Regions from separate parts of the Homo sapiens genome. Here region 1 is linked to region 2. A link means that fine-mapping ties the variant in region 2 to the expression of a gene that starts in the linked region. Tissue or cell type: whole blood. Region 2 holds a variant in brackets; the other region holds the start of a gene. All regions are shown on one strand. Distances are from middle to middle.

What was found. PIP is the estimated chance that this variant, and not a neighbour inherited with it, causes the effect.
Region 1: it holds the start of ITGA7, and the variant in region 2 is fine-mapped to the expression of ITGA7 in whole blood (TOPMed, PIP above 0.99).

The regions. Positions count from the first base shown.
Region 1 is chr12:55,706,090-55,710,220 of GRCh38, reverse strand. ITGA7 (integrin subunit alpha 7) reads left to right here and starts at 2,317. Exons shown (of 25, transcript NM_002206.3): 1 at 2,317-2,744. The coding sequence starts at 2,539. RefSeq lists a silencer at 2,194-2,403.
Region 2 is chr12:55,668,643-55,672,889 of GRCh38, reverse strand. No RefSeq gene overlaps it. Among named protein-coding and RNA genes, the nearest start is that of TMT1B, 11 kb to the left of the region's middle. The variant C/T (reference allele first, on the strand shown) is at 2,595.

The DNA of each region.
Region 1 (4,131 bases), 37 kb before region 2:
CCCGGCTAATTTTTGTATTTTTAGTAGAGACAGGGTTTCACCGTGTTGGTCCGGCTGGTCTTGAACTTCTGATCTCAGGTGATCCGCCTGCTTCGGCCTCCCAAAGTGCTGGGATTATAGGCGTGAGCCACCGCGCCCGGCCCCGTCTAGTTTCTTAATTTCCCTCTTCACCTACGATATTATCTTCCACTCCAACATTCTGGTCTCATTTCTCCTTGAGAGAAATCTACATGTCTAAATTTACTAGGCTGGTCTAGCACGCTCTTGTGTGTTCCCCTCCCTCCTTTGCCCCTCTATTTATAGCCAGGCTAATTTTGGGTGGCCTCTCTCTCTCTTCTTTCCTGATCTTTCCTCCTGTGGTGGTGAGGTGACTTCTCAAATATTTGGAGAGAGGAGGTCAGAAGCAGATTCTTGGCATCTGATTTCAGCCCTGGATCACAGAAGCCAGTGGAGTGGGAATGGAGACAGGCAGAAGCTGCAGGTGCAGATAGGAGGCAGCTTGGGCTCTAAAGGCATTTTGAGCTGGGTCGGGGGCGGGGGGACCTGGGCAGGGAGTCAGTAGTCCCAGTTCTGTCCTAATTTTGCAATTCTGCATTCCCATGTCAGCTCTTCTCTACTGTCTGGGGCTCTGAGATATTAAAAAGGATGGGGAGGGCATGGTGAAAGTAGAATCCTGGTGCCAGCCCTGCTGACAGCATATGTATTTCCTTATAGTACCTGTTTAGAGATGTGTTAGTGCTCTGGAGGGGATAGCCACAGGTGTAGTATTGGAAAACAGAGGGCCAGACTTCCAAATGTCTGTTAACTTATCCAAGGCAAAGACTGTCCCAGGGCAGCAGAGTAAGAACCCACTTTTTTTTTGTTTTCAAAGAAGTATAATCCTGAACAATGAAGTAGGAAAGACAGAACACAGGAAGAGGAAGGAGGTAGGACACTTATTGGAACTTTTAAGAAAGGGAAAGAGAAGAAAGAATCGTAAGAATATGATAGTGTTTGAAGGGCAGAGACAACACTAGAAACATTGAGAAATACTCTGAGAAAGATTCCAAGTGTGGCAGAGACAAGAATGATGACAAAATAGAATTTGGGATGAGACAAAATCAGATAGTGAGAGAGAGAAGGGAAGATGGACAGATGTATATTCACAAGACCAACACCAGTAAGCAAGGGGAGTAGGAAGGGGAAGTGGGAGCATTCGAGGTTCCCATTATGCCAAATTATTTCCTGTCTCTCCTTCTGGCCCCATTTCTGTATCGGAGTTATAAATAGCAGAGAGTTGGAAAGTGTCCCCCCACCCCCTTGCCTCTGTCCCAGCCTGAGGGAAAGGGAGAGGAAGAGGGACAGGCCAATGGGTCCCTGTGGAGATCCCATCTCAGCCCCACCCAGGTCCTGCTGAGCCAGTCCAGGACTCTGCCCCCTCCCATCCCCTTTCATGGATAGGAAATGTGCAGTCCTGGGACGGGTCTGGTAGCTGGGGACACCCTTTACATCCCTCTGCCTCTTGGGTCCAGTCTCTTTCATCTTTGCCTTCTTTGACACCCACTCCCCTCCCCACTGCTTAATTTCCTCTTCCTGTAATCATCCCCAGTCGTTTTCTTTTCTCCCTTCATTCCATCCCTTGTCAATTAATCTCTTGCCCTTCTTTCTTCCTCTCTATTCCTTTCCTTTTTCCATTTCTCCATTTGCTCCCCGTATCTCCCGAGTTTCTCTCTCTCTTCTTGCCTCTTTTTCTCTGTTCCCTTGAATCCTGACGATGTGGCTAGCACTGCTGTGGTCATTGCCGGGCTGGGGGCGGGGGATGGGATAGGATGGGGGAGGGCAGCGGTCTGATCCCAACAGCAGAAAGAGTGCTCTATGTGACCATGGGGGAACAGGGAGCACTAAGATGCCACGCTGCACCCAGGCCCAGGACGGCTCCCCTTTCATTTCCTCTCTATCTGCACATCTCTCTTCCCAGGTTGTCTTTTAGCGTCTTCCCAACTTCTCATCTCTTACCCTCCTTCCTCTGTTTCAGCCCCTCTCTTTCTATCTGTACTTCTCTCCCTCCGCATTCCAAGGCGCCGCCTCCACCACTCCCGGGGTGGGGATGGGGTTGGGGGAGAAGGGGAGGAGAGCGCCGCGCAGGGGCGGAGCCGGAGACGGTGCTGGGCTTGGGGGGCGTGGTGGTGGGGGGTCAGCAAGGCTAGTTTCCATCCCAGCCACCAGCCTGGGCATCCCCTTGGAGACGGGCTTGGGTCTCCACCTGCCGCGGGAGCGAGGGGCGGGGCCGGAGGCGGGGCCTGAGTGGCGTCCCCGGGAGAGGAGGCGGGAGCCGGAGTGGGCGCCGGAGCTGCGGCTGCTGTAGTTGTCCTAGCCGGTGCTGGGGCGGCGGGGTGGCGGAGCGGCGGGCGGGCGGGAGGGCTGGCGGGGCGAACGTCTGGGAGACGTCTGAAAGACCAACGAGACTTTGGAGACCAGAGACGCGCCTGGGGGGACCTGGGGCTTGGGGCGTGCGAGATTTCCCTTGCATTCGCTGGGAGCTCGCGCAGGGATCGTCCCATGGCCGGGGCTCGGAGCCGCGACCCTTGGGGGGCCTCCGGGATTTGCTACCTTTTTGGCTCCCTGCTCGTCGAACTGCTCTTCTCACGGGCTGTCGCCTTCAATCTGGACGTGATGGGTGCCTTGCGCAAGGAGGGCGAGCCAGGCAGCCTCTTCGGCTTCTCTGTGGCCCTGCACCGGCAGTTGCAGCCCCGACCCCAGAGCTGGTGAGTCACCGCACCCGCCCAGAGTCGCCATGCCCGAGCCACAGATCGTCCCCCTCCCCACTCTGTGGGCCTCCTCATTTCTCTGTTTTCTAGCCCCACCAAGACCTAGACTGCCCACAGACATCCCACATCCCAACCTGGAGCCTTGCCTCATCTGGCTTGCGTCTGAAGCTGCACTTCCCGGCCCTGAGACCAGTATTTTGCTTTAGGGATGAGTTGGAAAGCAAGGTTCTTGTCTTGGCAGCGAACCATCTCCTTCTTCTGGGCCTTTCCCCCAACTTGCATCCTTGATCCAGCCCCAGGGCCTCTGGCTCCCCTGCTTCTTCCAAGGGCTGAATTCCCCAAGGGAGGGAGACTGTCTGTCTCTGCTTAGAATGGGAGGAGATGGAAAGGACATAGAAGTTGAGGGTGCCATGAGAGGGATGCATGCAGGGCAGACTCCAGAAATAACTTCCTGCTAGAGCATTGCCATGGATGGAATGAGGGCAGCAGGGCACTGGAAGGCCAGGAGAGAGCTTCCACTTCTGTGGCTTAAGACCACGGGAAGATTGGGAGAGGATCTGCAGGTCTGCCAACCTGCAGTAGGTGGCTTGGTGATAGAGAGTGGCAGCAAACTGAACCCTCAAAGTACTAGTAGCAGTAGTAGTAGCCGCAGCAGCTGTAGCAGTGAGAGAGATCCAGGAAGGATGCTGGCCAGGCTGCTCCCCTTCCTCCTCCTTAGCAAATTTCCAACTCCAGGAATCTCAGCAGCTGGGAAGGGCCAGGAGGAGTAAGGGGTGGAGGACAATTCTAATTTTTTCTAATCAGTTCAGGACCCATGGGAGATGGATATACTTTTGTGAGGGGCCTGTGACTGGTCATGTTGCCTGTATCCTTGGCTCTTGCTACATGTCTGATTGTAAAAAGGGAGGCCAGAGGTGAAGAAAGCTTCTCACCTGCTCCTGCTAGGGGGCTTTTCTCTCTTCAACCAGTGCCTAAGCCACATTAAGTATCCATTACTGGGATCAATGCTGTCCACTGGGACTGTCTTCTGCCTCTACTGTCGGTCTGGGGGCAGGGGGCAGGGACAAGAGCTCATTTCTCCTCACTTGCTTGGGGAGTGGGGGCCTAGCTCTAATCTTTCTTCTTCCATTATCCCTATCATCTGGTAGCAGGGTCGGTGGTCCCCAAAACTTTGGGAGAGATAGAAAGCAACGGACTTCATCTCCTCTTCTGTTTACCATCTGCTTCCTCATTCACCTTTGCTCCCTCCCTCCCTTCCTCCCTCCTTCTCCATCTGTCAGAGTTCGAGGACTGGAGGCCTTTTTAGGACATGCTGAACTCTCTAAGCTATTTCCAGGCAAATTCTAGGTTATTTTTAATAGCTTGGTCTCTTGTCATTTCCCCC
Region 2 (4,247 bases):
AATGTATTGATGCCACTGTCACAGGAGCGGATTAGTTATCATGAGAATAGGCTTAATTTTTTCTCTGTTTCATGGACTTGCTTGCCCTTATGCTATGGGATAACACAGCACAAAGACCCTCACAAGACACTGGCAACATGGTCTTTTGGACTTACTAGCCTCCAGACTTACAAGCAAAATAAACTCCTATTCTTTATAAACTATCCAGTCTGTGGTATTACGTTACAGCAGCAGAAAACAGACTAAGATAGTCAGATTAGTCTGTTGGAAACATTTCTCCGATGTTTGATTTAAGGGAAAAAATACTGGAGGCTGGGAGATCAGTTAAGAGATGATTTGCTATGGTACCAGGAAAGGCTAATGAGAAGTAAGGCAATAGTGGTGGGGACAGAGAGGAGGATATTTATACAGGTGTTAGAAAGGTAGCATTGGTTGGATGTGGTGGCTCACGCCTGTAATCCCAGCACTTTGGGAGGCCAAGGCAGGAGGATTGCTTGAGCTACTTAGGAGGTTGAGGTGGGAAGATTGCTTGAGTCCAGGAAGTTGAAGCTGCAGTGAGCCATGATTATACGATTGCATTACAGCCTGGACAACAGAGTGTAGCTGGAACTATAGGCACGCACCACCATGCTTGGCTAATTTTTTACACTTATTTTTAGTGGAGATGAGGTCTTGCTATGTTGTCGAGGCTGGTCTCGAGCTCCTGAGCTCAAGCAATCCTCCCACCTTGGCCTCCCAAAGTGTTGGGATTACAGGCTTATGTCACCTTGCCCAGCCTGTTTCTAGTTTTGGCACCTTCAGTTTAATTTTCTGCACAGTCACCAAACGTGATTTACCTAAAACCCAAACGTGCCTTGGCCTTATTTAAAAACTTAAATTGTTTCCTTATTGTCCACAGGCTAAAGTCCAAGATCCTTAATGTGGCACACAAGGTCCCTGTGATCGTTCCCTGGCTGACACCTCAGCCTCTTCTTGGAGGCTTCCTCCCTGCTAACTGTGCCCCAACAACCTGGGTGTGTGCAGCTCTTCTCTGACCCAGCCATTTCACCCGGGGGCCTCTGCCAGGCTGCTCCTCTGCCTTGTGGGTCCCCTGCACTTCATTTGACTCACTCCTCTGTTAGATTCAGCTCAGGCTACTTTTTTGCCCAGAATGGCTTTCCTGTTGATTCCCCAACTCCAATGGGGTTACAGGTCTCTTTTTCCTCCACGCTATATACATATACTGTTATTGTGCTGAAAAGATCTGCTTACATATCTATCTATCTTTTTTTTTTTTGAGATGGAGTCTTGCTCTCTCGCCTAGGCGGGAGTGCAGCAGCGTGATCTTGGCTCACTGCAACCTCCACCTCCCGGGTTCAAGTGATTCTCCTGCCTCAGCCTCCAGAGTAGCTGGGATTAACAGGCATGCACAACCATGCCCAGCTAATTTTTTGTATTTTTAGTAGAGACAGGGTTTTACCATGTTGGCCAAGCTGGTCTTGAACTCCTGACCTCAGGTGATCTGCCCCCCTCAGCCTCCCAAAGTGTTGTGATTACAAGTGTGAGCCACCGCTTCTGGCCCATATCTATCTTCTTTAATGGCCTGTTGCCTTATGGGACACAGTGACTATGCCTTATATATTCTTATGGCCCTAATAGATTAATGATCAATAATGTTTGCAGAATGAACAAATGCTGTAAAGGAACCAAATGAATAATAAAACACACATATAGGAAACTATTGAGTGAAATTCAAAGCACTGTGTGATTAGTGCACAATATATGTGGGACAGACTCTAAGTTCTGTAGGCTGGAGCATTCTATGGGGGGATGAGTTCTCTTCCCTTAGTAGAAATTAAGGCTGTTGATACTGTAAACATTTTTTTTTAATTTTGCAAAACTATAATTGGTATTCCAGAACTGTGCTAATTAAAGTTTGTTTTCTGGACCAACATGGGCTTCACTTGCGTGTTTGTTAGAAATGCAGGCTTTAGGGCCTCACTCCAGACCTACTGAATCTGAATCTGCATTTTTAACAAGACTCCCAGGTCATTCGAATGTGCATTCCATTTTGAGAGGCACTGTCCGAGAAAACAATTCTGTTGCCTGGGAAAGGATGGAGCCTGTGAGCTCAGGTCTTAGGTCTCTTTTGCTCCTCAGGAAGTAGTGCTCTGTGGGGCTCGGCTGACGGATGTTAGAGCCAGACTTCAGGAGAAATAGAGCAAAGGACTTGAATCTAGTAGGTGTGACCAGATGAGCAGGTCTGGAGACTCAGCATCTCACAGGCAGGGTTAAACAGGAGCTGTCTGGGGACTGGGACTGGGACTGGGACTGGGCTTGGCTAAATAGGACTAAATAGATCTAGCCAAAATCAGGCTGGCTAGGTGTGGCAGTAAGTGGGCCTAGATGGAAGTGGTAGGCCAGATAGTCAGAGGCCTGGTCAGCAAGCATGGGTCAGGGTGAGAATCAGATGAGGTAGTTCCTGGGGCTGGGGCAGGGACTGGGGCTGGGCCCTCAGCTCAGAAGGTCAGGGATAGGGCAAGCTTCAGGAATGGGGTGAGGCTCAGGGTTGGGGTAAAGGTCAGAATGTTCAGTGCAAAATGGTTTTTGGCAAT[C/T]TGAAGCAATATTTTTACATTTTGAAGGGGTGGCTGTTAAAATGTCCTGCTTTTTACTGAAGTTAGCAGACTTTCAGGCCTCTGTTTCTAAGGACATCTTACAGGGAGCATGGGGTGAAGTTGCAGAAGAGCGCGTGCCCTCCCAGCACCCCAATGTGCTCTTGTTATATGTATTTGTTGTGTGACTCCTGCATGTCATTCTCTTGTGTTCAAATACGATGGTTTGATATTTCACAGCAAAAATAATTGAAACCATCCAGATACACGTTAGAATGTGAACTATTATACACTTAAGAAGTTCTAAGACCTCCCTTTTCTTTCTGTCAGGAGAGAGAGTTGTGGATCAGAATTTGGAGCTCGCACCCATGACCTGGGAGGGACTGAGTGACCTGTTAGAGCTAGTGCAGGCTCAGAAACTCAGTAATTCCTTGGTGCAGTCATATTAGTGTTATCATTTTGGAAGGAATATGGTAAAAATGTTAACATTAGGGGCAATATATGCTTTCTTTCTTTTCTTTTCTTTTCTTTTTTTTTTTTTTTTGAGATAGAGTCTTGATCTGTCGCCCAGGCTGGAGTGCAATGGCACCATCTTGGCTCATTTCAATCTCTGCCTCCTGGGTTCAAGCAATTCTCCTGCCTCAGCCTCCCGAGTAGCTAGGATTATAGGCACCCGCCACCACGCCCGGCTAATTTTCTTTTGTATTTTTAGTAGACATGGGGTTTCACCATGTTGGCCAAGCTGGTCTCGAACTCCTGACCTCAGGTGATCCATTTGCTTGGCCTCCCAAAGTTCTAGGATTATATGCGCGAGCCACTGCACCCAGCCTATGCTTTCTTAATATGAAACTAGATTGTCTTGACTTGATAGAAAAATTAATCCTTGCTATGGTGAGGTGTGCTTGCTTCTTTGGTAACCTGTGAAGAAACTGGATGCAGCATGCAATGTCTTCTTCATTCATGGAACCAGAGATAGTTCCTTGCCACTTTGGACCTGATAAAATCTGTAAAGAAGAAAGATTGTTATTATTTGGCTAAAATCTGAAGCTTAACATGGGTTGAGAGAGAGGAAGGGTCCACAAGAAACTCTTTTCTTCTTAAAACCTAGATCTAAAAGGGCTGTTACTTATGTGATACAAGGGAATTAGCTATTATTATTATTATTATTATTATTATTTTTGAGAGGGAGTTTTGCTCTGTCGCCCAGGCTGGAGTGCAGTGGCACGATCGCGGCTCACTGCAACTTCCACCTCCTGGGTTCAAGCGATTCTCCTGCCTCAGCCTACTGAGTAGCTGGGATTACAGGCACCCGCCACCATGCCCAGCTAATTTTTGTATTTTTTTTTTTTTTGAGACGGAGTCTCGCTCTGTCGCCCAGGCTGCAGTGCAGTGGCACGATCTCAGCTCACTGCAAGCTCCGCCTCCGGGGTTCATGCCATTCTCCTGCCTCAGCCTCCCGAGTAGCTAGGACTACAGGCACCCGCCACCACACCCGGCTAATTTTTTGTATTTTTAGTAGAGACGGGGTTTCACCGTGTTAGCCAGGATGGTCGCGATCTCCTGACCTCATGATCCGCGCGCCTCGGCCTCCCAAAGTGCTGGGATTACAGGCTTGAGCCACCGCGCCCAGCCAATTTTTGTATTTTTAGTAGAGAT